2 separate regions of the Homo sapiens genome follow, and region 2 is linked to region 1. The links come from fine-mapping of genetic effects on gene expression. A gene starts in region 1. The other region holds a variant in brackets. All regions are shown on one strand. Distances are between the middles of the regions. Region 1 holds the start of ANKS3 (ankyrin repeat and sterile alpha motif domain containing 3). Region 2 overlaps MGRN1 (mahogunin ring finger 1).

What was found. PIP is the estimated chance that this variant, and not a neighbour inherited with it, causes the effect.
Region 2: its variant is fine-mapped to the expression of ANKS3 in sun-exposed skin (GTEx, PIP 0.95).

What each region holds. Positions count from the first base shown.
Region 1 is chr16:4,729,586-4,737,910 of GRCh38, forward strand. It overlaps ANKS3 (ankyrin repeat and sterile alpha motif domain containing 3), which reads right to left and starts at 4,686. Exons shown (of 18, transcript NM_133450.4): 1 at 4,353-4,686; 2 at 1,927-1,994; 3 at 395-566. The coding sequence starts at 564. It overlaps DNAAF8 (dynein axonemal assembly factor 8), which reads left to right and starts at 4,952. Exons shown (of 10, transcript NM_139170.3): 1 at 4,952-5,113; 2 at 6,879-7,058; 3 at 8,215-8,325. The coding sequence starts at 6,930. RefSeq lists silencers at 4,472-4,531, 4,582-4,811.
Region 2 is chr16:4,637,183-4,645,507 of GRCh38, forward strand. All of the region lies in intron 1 of MGRN1 (mahogunin ring finger 1), which reads left to right. Among named protein-coding and RNA genes, the nearest start is that of MGRN1, 17 kb to the left of the region's middle. RefSeq lists an enhancer at 91-1,055. The variant T/C (reference allele first, on the strand shown) is at 4,439.

The DNA.
Region 1 (8,325 bases):
CCTGACCTCAAGTGACCCGCCCATCTCAGCCTCCCAAAGTGCTGGAATTACAAGTGTGAGCCACCGCACCAGGCCATCACTTTCTGTCTTTATTTTTATTTTGCTTGTTTGTTTGGGCATTTCTGCAATTAGTGAATAAAATTAGTCTGGTTAAAGAATGACTGTTTATAAGCTTCTGATCAAAGTTTACTCCCTCTTTTTCTTCCTAGGAATAAAAACGGCCTCTTTGTCAGGGCTCAGCATCAATACTTACTGACAGCTGCCTGAGATAAGCAGGTTAACCTATTCTACACGCATTAAACATCCACAACTGTGTGCAAAGCCCCATCACGTGGGATCGAAGCCATCACTGCGCTGCTCAAAATGTGAGAGGAAGTTCCCCGAGATCTCTTACCGCTGCACACACTCCTTCACCACTTCATACTGGCCAATGGAAGCAGCTGTGTGAAGATCCAGGGGGACATCCAGCTCCTCCCCGCTGACCTGTGTCCCGAGCCCGTGCCACATGGACAAGCTGCGGTTCAGGAGTTCCGGCTCGCTGGCTTCATCGCTGAGCTCGGACATCACTGAGGAGGAAGGCCCAAGGGTTAGATCTTTCCTGGCTGGTTGTTCCAGGGCATGAAACAGGCTGGTCCTGCCCCTGCTACACCACTGCACTAGCAGACTGATAACCCAGTGCAGTCAACCCCGGGAGTAACTCAGACAAATTTATTTGCTGAAATAATGTATGCTTTGGGCAGTCCCAACCATGCTAAATCTGGTGAGCCTGCTATCACACCAGTAAAGAGGAGCACATATGGTGAGGCATTAACTGTGGAGTACCTGCTCCTCCTTCCAACCGCAGGCACCAGGTAAAAGAGAATTCTCCACCAACTCTAGGAACCTGACAACCTCTTGGATGGGCAGTGAAGAAATGCTAATTGGGTTGTTTAACCCAATCAGTTCCTTGATGTGGTGGGGAAGAACCCTGGATTTGGGGTTTGATCAAAATTCAGCTTGGACCCGGTGCGGTGGCTCACACCTGTAATCCCAGCACTTTGGGAGGCCAAGGTGGGCAGATCACTTGAGGTCAAGAGTTCAAGACCAGCCTGGCCAACATGGTGAAATCCTGTCTCTACTAAAAATACAAAAATTAGCTGGGCATGAAGGCCAGCTACTCGGGAGGCTGAGGTAGGAGCATCACTTGAACTGAGGAGGCGGAGGTTGCGGTGAGCCAAGATCACGCCATTGCACTCCAGCCTGGGAAACAGAGCAAGACTTTGTCTCCAAAAACAAAACAAAAAAAAAAAACAACAAAAAAGCAGCTCTGCTACTTAGCAACTCCAATCCCTAGTGCCTCACTGTCTAACGGGGACATATCTAAAAAGGCTGCTATTATGATACATAAAAGAATGGATAAACAAACGGTGGCACATCCATATAATGGATGCTACTCAGCATTAAACACAAGGATCCAACAGTTGACATGCAACACGTGAATGAATTTCAAATGATTTACGCTAAATGGAAGAAGCCTGCCTACAGTATAATTTCACTTACATGACATTCTGGAAAAGGCAAAATTAAAGGGTTGGAGGTTGGGGCAGAGAGGGAATTTGGGGGACGATAGACCTGTATGACTGTGACGGTGGATCTGTGACTCCATGCCTTTATGAAACCACAGAACTGAACACCAAAATGAATTTTACTGTATGTAAATTTTATTTATTTTTTTGAGACAGTCTCGCTCTGTTGCCCAGGCTGGAGTGCAGTGGCATGATTTCAGCTCACTGGAACCTCTGCCTCCTGGGTTTAAGGGCTTCTTGAGCCTCAGCCACCTGAATAGCTGAGATTACAGGTGTGCGCCATCATGTTAGGCTAATTTTTGTATTTTTAGTAGAGACGGGGGTTTCACCATGTTGGCCAGGCTGGTCTCGAACTCCTCACCTCAGGTGATCCGCCCGCCTCAGCCTCTCAAAGTCCTGGAAATATAGGCGTGAGCCACTGCACCTGGCCTGTAAATTTTAAATATAAATTAATTTTTCTGGAATGGTTATGAAATTGAAAATTTCAAAAAAGTAAAAATAAATTTTTCTGAAAAAAATAGAAAGCAATTCCCCAACAGACAAACCAGGATGTGACTGGTGGCACGCAGCAACCGTCAACTGAATAGGAATCCACTTAGGCATCCTTTGAAGAGAGAGCTATGGGGGGAAATATAACAGGCCGGTGAACTGGTGAGGTAACACTTTCCCCGAGATGGGCCTACATGGGTAACGGCACACCAGGAATCCCCAAATCAAGGCAAGGTCATCAGCTTCCTAGTAGAATCCTTAGGTACAAGAGTGCCAGGAAACAAGGGTAGGAAAGGGAGCAAAGGCGAAAACAAAGGCCTTGTCAGGTTGTGATGACCTACAGGTGCTATGGTAGTTAATAGATGCGATGAGGACCTCAGTTTCTATTAAAGAATGCTTCCAAGCCCCAGGTGACAGCCAAGATGGCTAAAGAAACAAGCCACCAATGTGGGAGACGAACACTTCACAGACCCTTGGTGAAGAGTGTGTGTAGGTGCGGTGGGGCAAGCAAAGCCCTCCTTCCTGGAGCCACCACCTCTTCAGCTAGCAGAGCCCAAGATCGTGCAGTGCCCTTCCCTCACTTTGCAGGTGAGAATCCCACCCTAACAGCCCTGGCCAACGAAGCCTGGATAAGAAACCAAACGAGCTGAGGGTCAGTTCAGAGTCCCTTCCATACCTCCCTCAAGCCTTCACTGGGCATGTCTCTTCCACGCCAAAGGCCTCCTGCAGGGTGAGGCCGTGTTCTCTATTTACTGGAGACTTGCATATCTGACATCCCCAGAGGTCTGAAGGACAATGAGAACCAGACCAAGCGTGACGGACCACTTGAGGCCAGGAGTTCGAGACCACCCTGGCCAAAATGGTGAACTCCCATCTTTACTAAAATTACAAAAATTAGCTGGGTGTGGTGGTGGGCGCCTGTAGTCTCAGTACTCAGGAGGCTGAGGCAAGAGAATCGCTTGAGCCTGGGAGGCGATTGCAGTGAGCCGAGCTCAAGCCACTGCACTCCAGCCTGGGCAACAGAGCGAAATTCTGTCTCAAAAAAAAAAACAAAAAAAAAACACTAAAGTGAAAACTAAAATGTCCCATCCCGAGTGGTGTGGTGTAAAGTAGCATTAGAGATAAGACGTTTTAGTTTTCATTCAACTTTTTGGTTCTGTCCATTCTGAAAATGCTAAGTATCTGTTACCTTTACAGTGAATCCTAAAGAAAATGTGGTACTTAGACACAATGGAGTACTATTCAGCCATAAAAAAAGAATGAGATCCTATCATTTGCAAAAACATGGATGGAAGCGGAGATCGTTATGTTTAGTGAAATAAGCCAGGCACAGAAAGATAAATATTGCATGTTCTCAATTATTTGTGGTTATCTAAAAATCAAAACAACTGAACTCATGGACATAGAAAGTAGAAGGATGGTTACTTCTAGTGTAACCAAGGCTGGGAAGGGTAGTGGAGGGTGGGGATGCTTAATGGATACAAAAAAAACAGAATGAATAAGATCTAGTATTTGATCAAGCCACTGCACTCCAGCCTGGGCGACAAAGCGAGACTCCGTCTCAAAAAAAAAAAAAAAAAAAAAAAGATCTAGTATTTGACCGCACAACAGGGTGACTATAGTCAATATAATCTAATTGCACATTTTATTTATTTATTATTATTTTTTTTGAGACATAATCTCACTCTGTTACCCAGGCTAGAGTGCAGCGGCGTGATCTCGGCTCAATGCAACCTCCGCCTCCTGGGTTCAAGCGATTCTCCTGCCTCAGCTTCCCGAGTAGCTGAGATTACAGGTATGAGCCACCATGCCAGCCTAGTTTTCGTATGTTTAGTAGAGACGAAGTGTCCCCATGTTGGCCAGGCTGGTCTCAAATCCTTGACTTCAGGTGATCCGCCCGCCTTTGCCTCCCAAAGTGCTAGGATTACAGGCGTGAGTGAGCCACCGCGCCCGGCTGCACATTTAAAAATAATTCAAAGAGTATAATCATATTGTTTGTAACACAAAGGATAAATGCTTGAAGGGATGGAGACCCCCATTTTACATGTGATTATTACGAACTGCATGCCTGTATCAAAATCTCTCATATACGCCATAAATATATACACCTACTACGTACCCACAAAAATTAAAAAATTTTTAAAAATCTTAACAAATGTGATGCTGGTGGTAACTGTCACGCCCACAGAGGAGGTCTGTGAAAGCACCCAGGCACCCCCTCTCGCCCCGTGGAACCGCATCGCAAAGGTAGCTCACTGGCCCCGGGGCGGGTCCCTGGCCGACAAACCCGTAACTCACAGCAGTGACGCTTCCCGACGCCCCCCGGCCACATCCCCACAGGAACGCTACGGCGCACAGGGCATTACTGTGCCCCCACCACAACCACATAAAGAAAATGTGGGGGCTCGGTCCTCCAGTCACGCGGCGAGCAAGTGCAGCGCGGGACGCCCGAGCGCCGGGTCTAGGCGGGCTGCAGGTGCCGGCAAGTGCTGGGGCCGGGCCGCCGCGGAACCCACCTGTGCTGGGCCTCAGGCCTTGCGCCGCCCTCGGGCTGCCGTCGCCAACCCCCCCCAAACAGCTCGCCGCCACGCTCCCTCGCCGGGGCACCGCCCCCGGCACCCGCCCCGGAAGTAGTTGCGGGAGGGCGCGGAGCACGCCGGGAAGCTCGCGGGTCGGCACCGGGACAGCTCCCGGGCGCCGTGGAATGCACACGTCCCGCACCCGGACCTTCCGGTCAGCTTCCCGGCTCGCTGTCTGATGCCCGCGGTAGCCAATGAGCTAGTGGTGTTTGTCCTGCTCCGTCCCCGCCCTCCAGGGGAACCAATCCCATTGCAGGAGAGGCAGGACGCGCAAAGGCCCGAAAGAGGAGCTGGGCGGGGTGGGGGGAAGGCGGAGGCAGTCTAGTAATGTAAAGCTCCGCTGAGAGGGAGAGTGCTGAAGAAGGGGACAGCCTCTGTACCTGCGGCGCGGCCCGAGGGGCGGACGCGAGCGGAGTGACGCGCTGGAGGCTGTTTATAGCGCTGTCAGGACAGCGCGGGGAGTGGAGGCAGAGGCCTGAGGTGAGGGGCCTCGGGCCTGCTGCGCCTGCAGGGAGTTGAACAAAACGCGGGGAAATACGGGCTGGGGGTGGGTGAGAGGAGGAGCGATGGGCTTTCCACTTCCACAGCTTTAAAATTTAAAAGCTCGACCCGGGAGGCTGTTGGCGTCTGGTTGCCATAACAACCGGCAGCCTCGTGGCAGGCCGGCTGGGGGCGGGGCTCTGAGAACCGGGGCGGGGCTGTGGCGGGGCTAACAGGCTGCAGCTGAGAAACCCACCCCGAGACGGAGCCGGAAGGCCGTTATTCAGAGGCGGCTCCGAGCCTCCCCTTCGCCTTCTGGATGCTCTGAGCTCCTCAACTTGGCGTTCAGGGCCCTGCATTGTCTGGTCCGTTTTCACCGGAGAGTCCAGCAACTGACACTTTCTTCCCTTAAACCTGTTGGGCGGTTCATTCCTTTGAGCTACTGTACATGCTCTTCCTTCTGCCGGTAATGCCGTTCCCTCCCCTATTGTCTTGTCCGCCTGAAGGGTTTATCAGAGTCTCTGGAGGCCCTCTTCATCCCGACGATTCTGTTGCCCTAAGAAATACTGTGCCCTGAATTGCGGAACAGAGCTCTAGTTACAAAAAACACCCGCTGGCTGTGTGCACCAGATGCGTCCCCAACCCGCTGCTCCCAGTTCAGAGTGCACCAAGCACCTGCCCTATTCCCAGAAGTACAGAGGAAGCAAGCAGCCCCCAATTCACATCTCCTGCCGCTGCCCTGATTGGGGATGAACGGGCACTGACTGCAGGGCCAAAGCCACAGCGGCCTCTCGAGCTGCAGAGTTCTCCTGACACTGGCTCTAGAGGACCCTCACCCCCCAGCTCTCAAGCTCAAGCTCCCCAGCCCCCTGAATAACAGGACCATCTCCTTTAAGACTCTAAGATATAAATGCAGGGGCTGGTCAGAGTAGTGACTCCAAAAAAAAAAAAAAATCACTTAGTGACTCCAAACTGTCAGCCAGGCGCGATGGCACATGCCTGTAATCCCAGCACTTTGGGAGGCTGAGGCAAGAGGATCACTTGAGGCCAGGAGTTTGAGACCAGCCTGGGCAACAGGGAGACTCCATCTCTACAAAAAATAAAAATGTTAGCCAGATGTGGTGGTACACACCTGTAGTCCCAGTTATTCAGGAGGCTGAGGTGGGAGGATCACTTGAGCTCAGGAGGCCGAGGCTTCAGTGAGCTATCATTGTACCACTGCACTCTAGCCTGGGCGACAAAGCCAGACCCTGTCTCCAAAACAAAAAAGCAAGGTGTCTTCTGTTCCTTGGTAAAGGGCAGTAAAGGGTAGTAGGACTTGAAATTCCCCCTGATTCAGAGTCCACTGTTGCTATTTACTAAACACCCTGAGCCTATGAAATGAAGAGAATAGTTATGCTATATGGGGTATATATAAAATATACCTATATATCATTATATATCGTACATATGGCATTCTATATAACATGTACATATATCTACATAGGTATATTTATATCAATACATATATTTGTATATTATTATGTATATATCACTATATACATTATATACCTGCAGGCTCCACATGTGTGCATGAGTGGGAACACACACACACACGTACACACACAGTGCCTGGCACTAACAGGAGCTTGCATAACTAGAAGGAAACTGAGGCAGGTGGTGAGGCCTGCCAGCCTGTTTGGTCTCCTACAGCTGGTAGAGCAGCCCCTGCTCTCCTGACCTTCAGTGGCCCGGACCCTCTTCCATCACCCTGTGTACCCCACAGAGCTCCCCGGATTATGGTGCACTGAGAAGGCATCTGGAAGCCTGGGCCCTCATGGCATCCAACGATAAAGGCATGGCACCCTCGCTGGGCTCTCCCTGGGCCTCCCAGATGGGGCCCTGGGATGCCATCCTCAAGGCTGTCAAAGACCAGCTCCCGTCTCTGGACTCAGACTCCCCTTTGGTAAGCAAGAACTCTCTCCCTGGATGCCTTGTCCTTCCTACCAGAGCAGGCATGACGCTGGCCAGGACAGCTTTGGAGCACTTCTCTGAAGACTTTTCCTGCTGACCTGTGCAGTTTGTTGTCATTTTACTTTAAATCGCATGGCCAGACTCAAAGTTGTGTTTTCTGGGTGCCTATTTCCTTCTTTACTCTTTCTTCTGCCTTGATTGTCATCTCTGAGCATGGGTATTGGTGCTCAGCATCTTGGGAGACCCTTTCAGTGGAGTTTTTGGTGCTGACTTGGAACCCAGGTCAATTTGATGCAGAAGCTCTGTCCTTTCCATTCTGCTATTCTCCACTCTCTCGTGCCAGGACAGGGCCAGAACACCCACTGAGAATGCACAATTCCAGTGCATTGTGATAAGCCTTCGAGGGATTCTGCATTTGTGGTTTGGGGTCCCTGAAATGGCTCTCAAAGACGCTCAGACCAATAGCCCTAGGTGCAGGCATAAGACCCTGCTAAAGATGCTCCTGGCGGGGGCTGCTCAGTGCACAGGTTGGCACTGGGCGTTAAGAGACAGTATGAGGGTTTTAAAAGGAACGGGCAGGGTTTGGGTCCTACCTGGGCACCAGCAACAGAGCTTCAGGGACCTCAGACGTCATCCAGTGCATGACGAGGCTAAGGAGAACCTAAGGGGACCCCACGCCTCAGTGCTCAGGGTGTTTTCACACCTTCAGTCTCATTTGAGAGTATGAGCCCCAACCCCTTCAAGAAGACAAACTAAGCTGTGTAAGTGATGGCTCAGGGTCACAGGGGATGGGGAGGGCTGGACCCTGCTCTTTCAGCTACCACCTCACTGCCCTGTTCATGTCACGAGGCATTAATGAAGCACCTGCTGTATGCGAGGTACTTGCAGAACCAGGAGCCCCAGTCTCACCTCCACGAGGTTGTGCTGCCAAGCCCATTTCTAAACGGTGGCAAGAAGCCGCGCACAGCAAGGCTGACTGGGAGAGAACCGGATCTCCCCCAGGCTCCTGAGCAGCAGGGCTGGACGGGCTGGATGGGCTGGGCGGGCTGGGCTGGAAGTGAGAGTGGAGAGTGGAGAGCGGGGGTGGCTAGGCCCTCAGGGCTCTGCCTGCTGCCTTGTCCTCCAAAAGCCCTCTCATTTGTCCACAGTCGGACTATGGGGAAGAGGAGCTGTTCATCTTCCAGCGAAACCAAACCTCCCTGATTCCAGACCTGTCGGAGGAGCTGGCTGAAGATCCTGCCGATGGCGACAAGTCCAGG
Region 2 (8,325 bases), 92 kb before region 1:
ACTTTGGGAGGCTGAGGCGGGCAGATCACCTCAGGTCAGGAGTTGAAGACCAGCCCGGCCAACATGGTGAAACCCCGTCTCTACTAAAAATTCAAAAATTAGCTGGGCATGGTGTTGGGTGCCTGTAATCCTAGCTCCTGGGGAGGCTGAGGCAGGAGAATCGCTTGAACCTGGGAGATGGAGGTTACAGTGAGCCAAGATCGCGCCATTGCACTCCAGCCTGAGCGACAGAGTGAGACTGTCTCAAAGAAAAAAACAAAAAAAAAATTGAGTTATCTTTTTTTCTTACTGGTTTATAGGAGCTCTTTCCTAAGTGCTTTTTATTATGGTTTTAATTCTTTGGAAATTGGCCGCCTTAGTGCCGTTTATGGAAGCTAGCCCAGGCAAGAAATGGAGTGTATTGAAGGCTCCGAGGGAAGTCCCAGTAACCTCAGGGGAAACGGACAAGTGGAAGCTGCGGGAACCCAGAGCCTCTGTTCGGCTCCAGCCTCAGCGCCATCCTGCAGTCCTGCAGAGCGCCCCAGCTGCTCCGGCGTGTGTGAGGCCATCGCCACCCACCAGGCTGGTCAAGGGCCAAGTGCTGCCGTCGTCCCTGGTCCCATTCCACAGGAGGGAGAATTCGGATGGCCCAGTGTGCCAGTGTCCACCTTAGGGCCAACCAGCCCTGTCTAGGGGGTGGGGGCCACCCTGAGGGTGGTGGAGGCTGTTTCCAGAAAAGGGGAGGACACACCCCCAACAAAAAAGGTGACTACAGCTTATGCCCCCTCCGTGCCCCAGCGTCTTTGCTTAGTCAGAGTTGTTCTCAGCTTTGTGTTCCGCACTGGAAGCCAGAGCCCTGTATTTAATATGGTATCACGTTTACATATGGGAGGTCCGAAAGGGACTTCTAGCCAGTGTGTTCACACCTGCCGGAGGCTCCTTTGTGTTAATTGGCATTTTTTATCCTCAGGACGTCCTGAGTTTAGGGTGGCCCTCTCATCTCAAGTTTGCAGTTAAAGAAATCAAGGTTGGGTGTGGTGGCTCCCTGTAATCCCAGCACTTTGGGAGGCCGAGGCGGGTGGATTACGAGGTCAGGAGTTTGAGACCAGCCTGACCAACATGGTGAAACTCCGTCTCTACTAAAAATACAGAAAATTGCTGGGCGTGGTGGCGGGTGCCTGTAATCTCAGCTATTTGGAAGGCTGAGGCAGGAGAATCACCTGAACCCGGGAGGCAGAGGTTGCAGTGAGCCGTGATCGTACCACTGCACTCCAGCCTGGGTGACAGAGCGAGAGTCCGTCTCAAAAAAAAAAATAAATAAATATCTCAGCCCATGTTGACTTCCCCAGCTGGGTGGGGGACTGGTAGTAGGCAGGGAAGCATGGTAGGCCCAGGGGGATCAATGCGTGGGTGATACAGCTGGGTGGGACCCCCAGAGCACTCGAAGGCTGTGGGGCTGCCACCCCCTCTGGCCTCCCACCTGGTGGGGGCATCCTGGGACCTGATCTTGTGCAGGTCTGGCCCACCTGGGGTTTATTGGCAATGCAGCAGCTGATTTTGTGAGACTGGTAAGCAGGAACACCTGTCCTGTTAGAACACGAGGAGAATTTTCAGCAGGTGGAATCAGTGAGCTGTTCGGAGCCCCTGCAGACACCTCGTGGCCTTCCCACTCCCCCTTCCTCGGGTGGGAACGATGGCTGAGGCAGCCCAGTGAAGTCCACCCCTGGTGTCCCGGGTCCCTGGGCCGCTGTGTTTCTTAGGAGGCAGACATGCTGGGTGTCTTCATTCACATCCTGGCTTACTTCCCATGGCTGACAGTGCAGGCTCTGGAGTCTGCCCAGGGGTCCCAGTGAGAATGTCTCTCACTGGTTGTGTGACCTGAGCAGGTCACTCAGCCTCACCGGGCCAGTTTCCCTGACTGTCAAACACCAGTAACAACAGCATCTGCTTTCATTCATTAGGTGAGTGTTCATCCAGCTCTTAGGCATGGAGCGGGGAGGTCATGAGGATGCGGGGCCGTGGACAGTTGAGGATGATGCCTACTTTTGGGCTGGGGAGGACAGAGGGAACCAACAGGTACACGAGATAAAGCAGCAGTGACACTATGAGGAGAATGGCGGCGGGAGCGTTGACCACGAGCTGGCAGTTGGCCTGCGTGGTGGTCCAGGCTGGCCTCACCGCGGCATCCCAAGGAGGGAATAGCCCAGGCCGGGAAGGTGGGGCGGGGTGGGCAGGGCATGTGGAATCACTGGTCTGCAGAGCGGGGAGCTTGGCCATGGCCTTCAGGTCAGGGTGCAGCAACCTTCACCATTGGGCATCATTAGGCTGGGGGCATCTGGAAGGTCAGGAGGAAGCCTGGGCTACCTAGGATGGAACAGGCAGGACAGTTGTCTCCAAGGCCTGCCTATGACTTGGGCATCCTGTCCCCAGATGCACAGCGTCTGCCCCCTCGGTGCGGGAGGATGAGGAACGCCTGCCTGTGGATCCACACATGGTCCCCGTATTGGGGGTGTGGAGGAAAGGCCTTTCTGACATGATCTGAGCCCGGCCTCTTTCTCTTAGGGGTGTACCAGGGTTGGTGGGTTTGGAGGCAAATGCATTTCAAGGGTCCAGATCACGAACCTCTGACCCGGTGGGCCCTGAACTCTGGTCTGATAAACATGGGTCAGACTTCTCCCTGAAAACTGTGAGCGTGGAGTTCAGGCACAGGCAGGCGGGGCAGGTGCTTTCAGGCTTGATAGCAAGACCCTACTTTACTCATCTGCCCTCCACGCTCCGCGGCTCCGACGGTGTTTGCTGCGGCTCCTCTGCTGCGTTGAGTCCGTCTGTGCACTCAGATGGCCTGTGCTTCGCCTTTCGCCCGCGTTCTTGGGAGGCCTTGCCGCGTCCCGGGCCTCCCGCCCTTCCAAGGTTGGCTTGTTTCAGTGATTCGGAATGTCCCTGTTTTCCTCTCGCAGATGTCTGGTGGCGTTCATTGCACACTGTGTACCACAAGATATTGACAAGGTGCAAGAGACACAAGACGGGCCCAGAAGGCTTCTTGGCTCACTCTGTGGCCTGTATGGAAGGGACAGGGCTGTCCCCCTCCCCTGGCCATCCCCAAGACAGCCTCTGACCTGTGGCCTTGTGGTTTTGGTTTTTCTCAGCTGTAGAGATGACAAACGTATGTATCCTCCTGCCTGGAGGCATGTGTGGAGAGCATTGAGGCTGTTCGGGGAATGCCTCGAGGCCTCCCACGGAAGGGATTTTGCAGTTTTCATTTCTGTGGCTGTTGTCTCCCTGTGCAGGTTGCCCGGACACCTGCAAGCCACCCAGAGTCCGAATCCCTCGGGCAGGGAGGCAGTGAACTGCTGGGCTCCAGTCCCCCTGGGGGTGACAGTAAACCAGGGGAGAAGGATGCCTTTGTTTTAGTGGTGTTCGAGGACTGCCCTGAGGCCCTGGGTCCTTGAGTGTGTTGGTTCCACATAGCCGGGATTTCCAGGACAACCTTGGGACCCTGTGGCGTCTGTCGGGCTCTGTGAGCCCACAGGAGGATTTTCAGCCATTCTGCTGGGGAAGCCCCTTGGGTGTGGTTTTTTGTGTGTGAACAGTGCCCATTGTCACTGGCGATGACACCACTGACTCCTGTCCCCGTGGTCCCCCGGCTGCAGGAGGGGAGGTGCCCAGCACAGAGACTGAGAAACAAGTGGGCTCTGGAGTCGGGGTGTGCGCCCCAGCTCCACCGCTGATGAGCTTGGGGGCCTTAGCCAAGCTTCGTTTCCTGTATGTTTGAAAGTGTGGGCCTTGTCTGCCCCTCTTTCCTTGGGGCCAGCGGGAAAGGGGGTGAAGGCGCTGACCTCAGCAGGTGTGGAGGGAGAGCCTGGTGGGTGTGGTTCCACCTGCGTTCTTTCACCTCCACAGCTGCCTTCCCACTTCCCACTCACAGTCTCCTTTTCTTTTTCCTCCACCCCCTTGGCAGCGCTGCCTGCTCCTCTTGGTCCTGAGCTGGTGCACATACAAATGTACACAGCTCATGCACGCACACACCACATGTGTGTCATTCTTCTTGAGGCAAAGGAAAGGGCGGCCCCGCCCCTAACACTTCCCCAGGCCTGGTCCCTTCCTCCTGCCCCATCAGGGACCTAGGGTCTCCTTCCCGTGTTTCTTCTCCATGTGTGGATACCCATGTGTGAGCAATAGGATTTTTTTTTTGTTTTTTGGAGACAGAGTCACGCTGTTGCTTGGGCTGGAGTGCAGTGGCCCAGGGGCCCAATCATAGCTCACTGCAACCTCAAATTGCTGGGCTCGCATGGTCCTTCTGCCTCAGCCTCTTGAGTGGCTGGTACTACAGGCACATACCACTGTGCCTGGCTACTTTTTTTTTTTTTTTTTTTAAGACAGCGTTTTGCTCTTGTTGCCCCAGGCTGGAGTGCAGTGGTGCAGTCTCGGCTGACCGCAACCTCTGCCTCCCAGGTTCAAG[T/C]GATTCTCCTGCCTTAGCCTCCTGAGTAGATGGGATTACAGGCACCCACCACCATGCCCAGCTAATTTTGCATTTTTAGTAGAGACGGGAGTTTCTCCATGTTGGTCAGGCTGGTCTCGAACTCCCAACCTCAGGTGATTCGCCTGCCTCGGCCTCCCAAAGTGCTGGGATTACAGATGTGAGCCACTGCGCCTGGCCACTTTTTGTATTTTTTGTAGAGACAGGGTCTCGCCATGTCGCCCAGGCTGGTCTGAAATTCGTGGCTTCAAGCCATCTTGCCCACCTTGGCCTCCTAAAGTGCTGGGATTATAGGCGTGAGCCCCCTCGGCTGGCCTGGATTCTCTGTGAGGTGTTTCCAGTTCTTCCCAGTTGGTCTCGTCTCCTGCAGGTGTGAGTTGTTGATTGTCTGCGCCGTGTTGATCACGTAGACCCTGTTCTTGAGTGCTGAGGGTCCATCCGGTAACCCTGCACTGTCATGCATTTCCCTGTCAGCATATGACTTGGTTCCTTTTTTTTTTTTTTTTTTAAAAAAGACCGTCTTGCTCTTTCGCCCAGGCTGGAGTGCAGTGGCGCGATTTCAGCTCGCTGCAACCTCTGCCTCTTGGGTTCGAGAGATTCTCCTGTCTCAGCCTCCCGAGTAGTGGGGATTACAGGCATGAGCTAATTTTTGTATTTTTATTTATTTATTTATTTTTGAAACGGAGTCGTCTTCTGTCACCCAGGCTGGAGTTCAATGGTGTGATCTCCGCTCACGGTAACCTTCGTCTCCTGAGTTCAAGCGATTCTCCTGCCTCAGCCTTCTGAGTAGCTGGGATTACAGGCATGCACCACCACGGCCAGCTAATTTGTGTGTGTGTGTGTGTGTGTGTGTGTGTGTGTGTTTTTAGTAGAGATGGGGGTTTCACCTTGTTGCCAGACTGGTCTTAAACTCCTGACCTTGTGATCCGCCCGCCTCGGCCTCCCAAAGTGCTGGGATTACAGGCGTGAGCCACCGCACCCGGCCCTAATTTTTGTATTTTTAGTAGAAACAGACTTTCCCATGTTGGCCAGGCTGGTCTTCAACTCCTGACGGCAGACCTCAAGTGATTTGCCTGCCCTGGCCTCCCAAAGTGCTGGGATTACAGGGGTGAGCACCGTGCCTGGTGGGTTATAATTTTTAACGCTTGAATTTTTTTTTTTTTTTTGTTAAAGGGTCTGGCTCTGTTGCCTAGGCTATAATGCAGTGGCTTGATCAGGGTTCACTGCAGCCTTGACCTCCCAGGCTCAAGTGATCCTTCCACCTCAGCCTCCCGAGTACCTTGGACTGCAAGTACGCATCACCGTGCTAGCTAATTTTTTTTGTTTTGTTTTGTTTTGAGACAGTCCCACTCTGTCACCCAGGCTAGAGTGAAGTGGCACAATCTCAGCTCACTGCAGCCTCTGCCTCCCAAGTTCAAGCGATTCTCGTGCCTCAGCCTCCTAAGTAGCTGGGACTATAGGCACACACCACCATGCCTGGCTAATTTTTGTATTTTTAGTAGAGATGGGATTTCGCCATGTTGGCCAGGCTGGTCTCAATCTCGATCTCCTGACCTTGTGATCCACTCCTCTCGGCCTCCCAGAGCACTGGGATTATAGGCACGAGCCACTGAGCCTGGACTAATTTTTGTATTTTTGGCAGAGATGGGGTTTTGCCATGTTGTCCAGGCAGGTCTCGAACTGCTGGGCTCAAGTGAACCTCCCACCTTGGCCTCCCAAAGTGGTAGGATTACAGGCGTGAGCTACTGTACCCGGCCTTGCTTGATTTTTTTTTTTTTTTTTTTTTCTGAGACAGAGTCTCCCTCACTGCAACCTCCGCTTCCTGGGTTCAAGGAATTCTCCTGCCTCAGCCCCTCCCAAGTACCTGGGACTACAGGCGCGTGCCACCACACCTGGCTAATTTTTTGTATTTTTTAGTAGAGACGGGGTTTCACCGTGTTAGCCAGGATGGTCTCCATCTCCTGACCTCGTGATCCACCTGCCTTGGCCTCCCAAAGTGCTGGGATTACACGCGTGAGTCACCGCGCCTGGCAAAAATCTTGTATTGATCATATTGTGTGTCTGCAACCAAAATATGCGCACCAATTGAAATTAGAATTTTAAATAATTTTACATCATAAGCTGTGAGTTTTTCGTGTTTTGAATGGCCATTACTAATACCCAATTGATCAAACAAATATTCCAGTTTTTATCAATAACAAGAAGAAATACGAAAAAACATTGGAAATATGTCTCTTGAGTAGATGGGTTCCTTTTTCTCCTGGTTAATTCATGCATTCACAGTTGGATACAAGCTGTTGCTAAAATGATTTCAGCCTCAATGCTAGTTTTTTTTGTTTGTTTGTTTTTTTTGAGATGGAGTCTCGCTCTGTTGCCCAGGCTGGAGTGGAGTGAGGTGGTGCAATCTCGGCTCCCTGCAACCTCTGCCTCCCAGATGCAAGCAATTCTGCTGTCTTGGCCTCCTGAGTAGTTGGGATTACAGGCATGTACTACCACTCCCGGCTAATTTTTTTTTGTTTTGTTTTGTATTTTTAGTAGAGATGGGGTTTTACCATGTTGGCCAGGCTGGTCTAGAACTCCTTACCTCAAGTGATCCACCCCCCTCAGCCTCCCAAAGTGCTGGGTTTACAGGTGTTAGCCACCGTGCTTGGACCCCTCAATTACCAGTTTTTTTTTTTTTTTTTTTTTGATGGAGTTTCACTCTTGTTGTCCAGGCTGGAGTGGACAGCTGGCCCAATCTCAGCTCACGGCAACCTCTGCCTCCCAGGTTCAAGCGATTTTCCTGCCTCAGCCTCCCAAGTAGCTGGGATTACAGGCACACACCACCACGCCTGGGTAATTTTGTATTTTTAGTAGAGACAGGGTTTCTCCATTATGGTCAGGCTGGTCTCCAACTCCTGACCTCAGGTGATCCACCCACCTTGGCCTCCCAAAGTGCTGGAATTACAGGTGTGAGCCACTGCACCTGGGTTCTGTTTTTTAAGTTGAGAAACCTTGATAACATCAATTAGATAGGAATTAGCAAGATTTTTATGTAACAATAGCATCTATTTCCAAGTTACTTCACAAAAATTGACATAAAAACCTAGTACAAAAATTAATGATTCATCACCTCACAACTTACGTCCTTCCAGTTAAGTTTTTTTGAGGTAAAATTCACTTACCATGGGGACACCTTTTTAAAGTGTACAAGTCAGTGATTTTTGGTATATTCAGTCATGCAACCATTACCTTGATCTAATTCTAGAACATGGTCCCAGTTTTGTGATATTACAACCATTGCTTTAACAAACACTCTTCTTCCTTGTCTCTAATCTTTTAAAAATAATTTTTCTTGTTTTACAAATGATATATGTTAATTGTAGAAAACTTAATTTTAAAAAGATAAAGGAAAAAATTAATAATCACTTATTACCTATGCAGGTGTTTTAGTTTGTAGCATTTGTTTCTCTGAAGTTATTTATATGTATATATGCGTGTGCATATATATATAGAGTGAGAGTTGGCGGGGGTGGGGGTGGTGGTGGGGGGACGGGAAGAGAGACAGGGTCTTGCTCTGTTGCCCAGGCTGGAGTGCAGTGTGGTGTGATCATGGCTTACTGCAGCCTCGAACTCTTGGACTCAAGCGATCTTCCTGCCTCAGTGAGTGTCCTGAGTAGCTAGGACTACAGGCATGCGCTGCCATGCCCAGCTAATTTTTAAGAATTTTTTGTAGAGACAGCGTCTCCCTATGTTGCCCAGGCTGGTCTTGAACTCTGGGGCTCGAGCGATCCTCCTGCCTTGATCTTCCAAAGCGCCCAGGCATGAACCACTGGCCCAGCTTAATTACTTTCTCTGAAGTTATTGAAGCTTAAAACTACATACAGTAA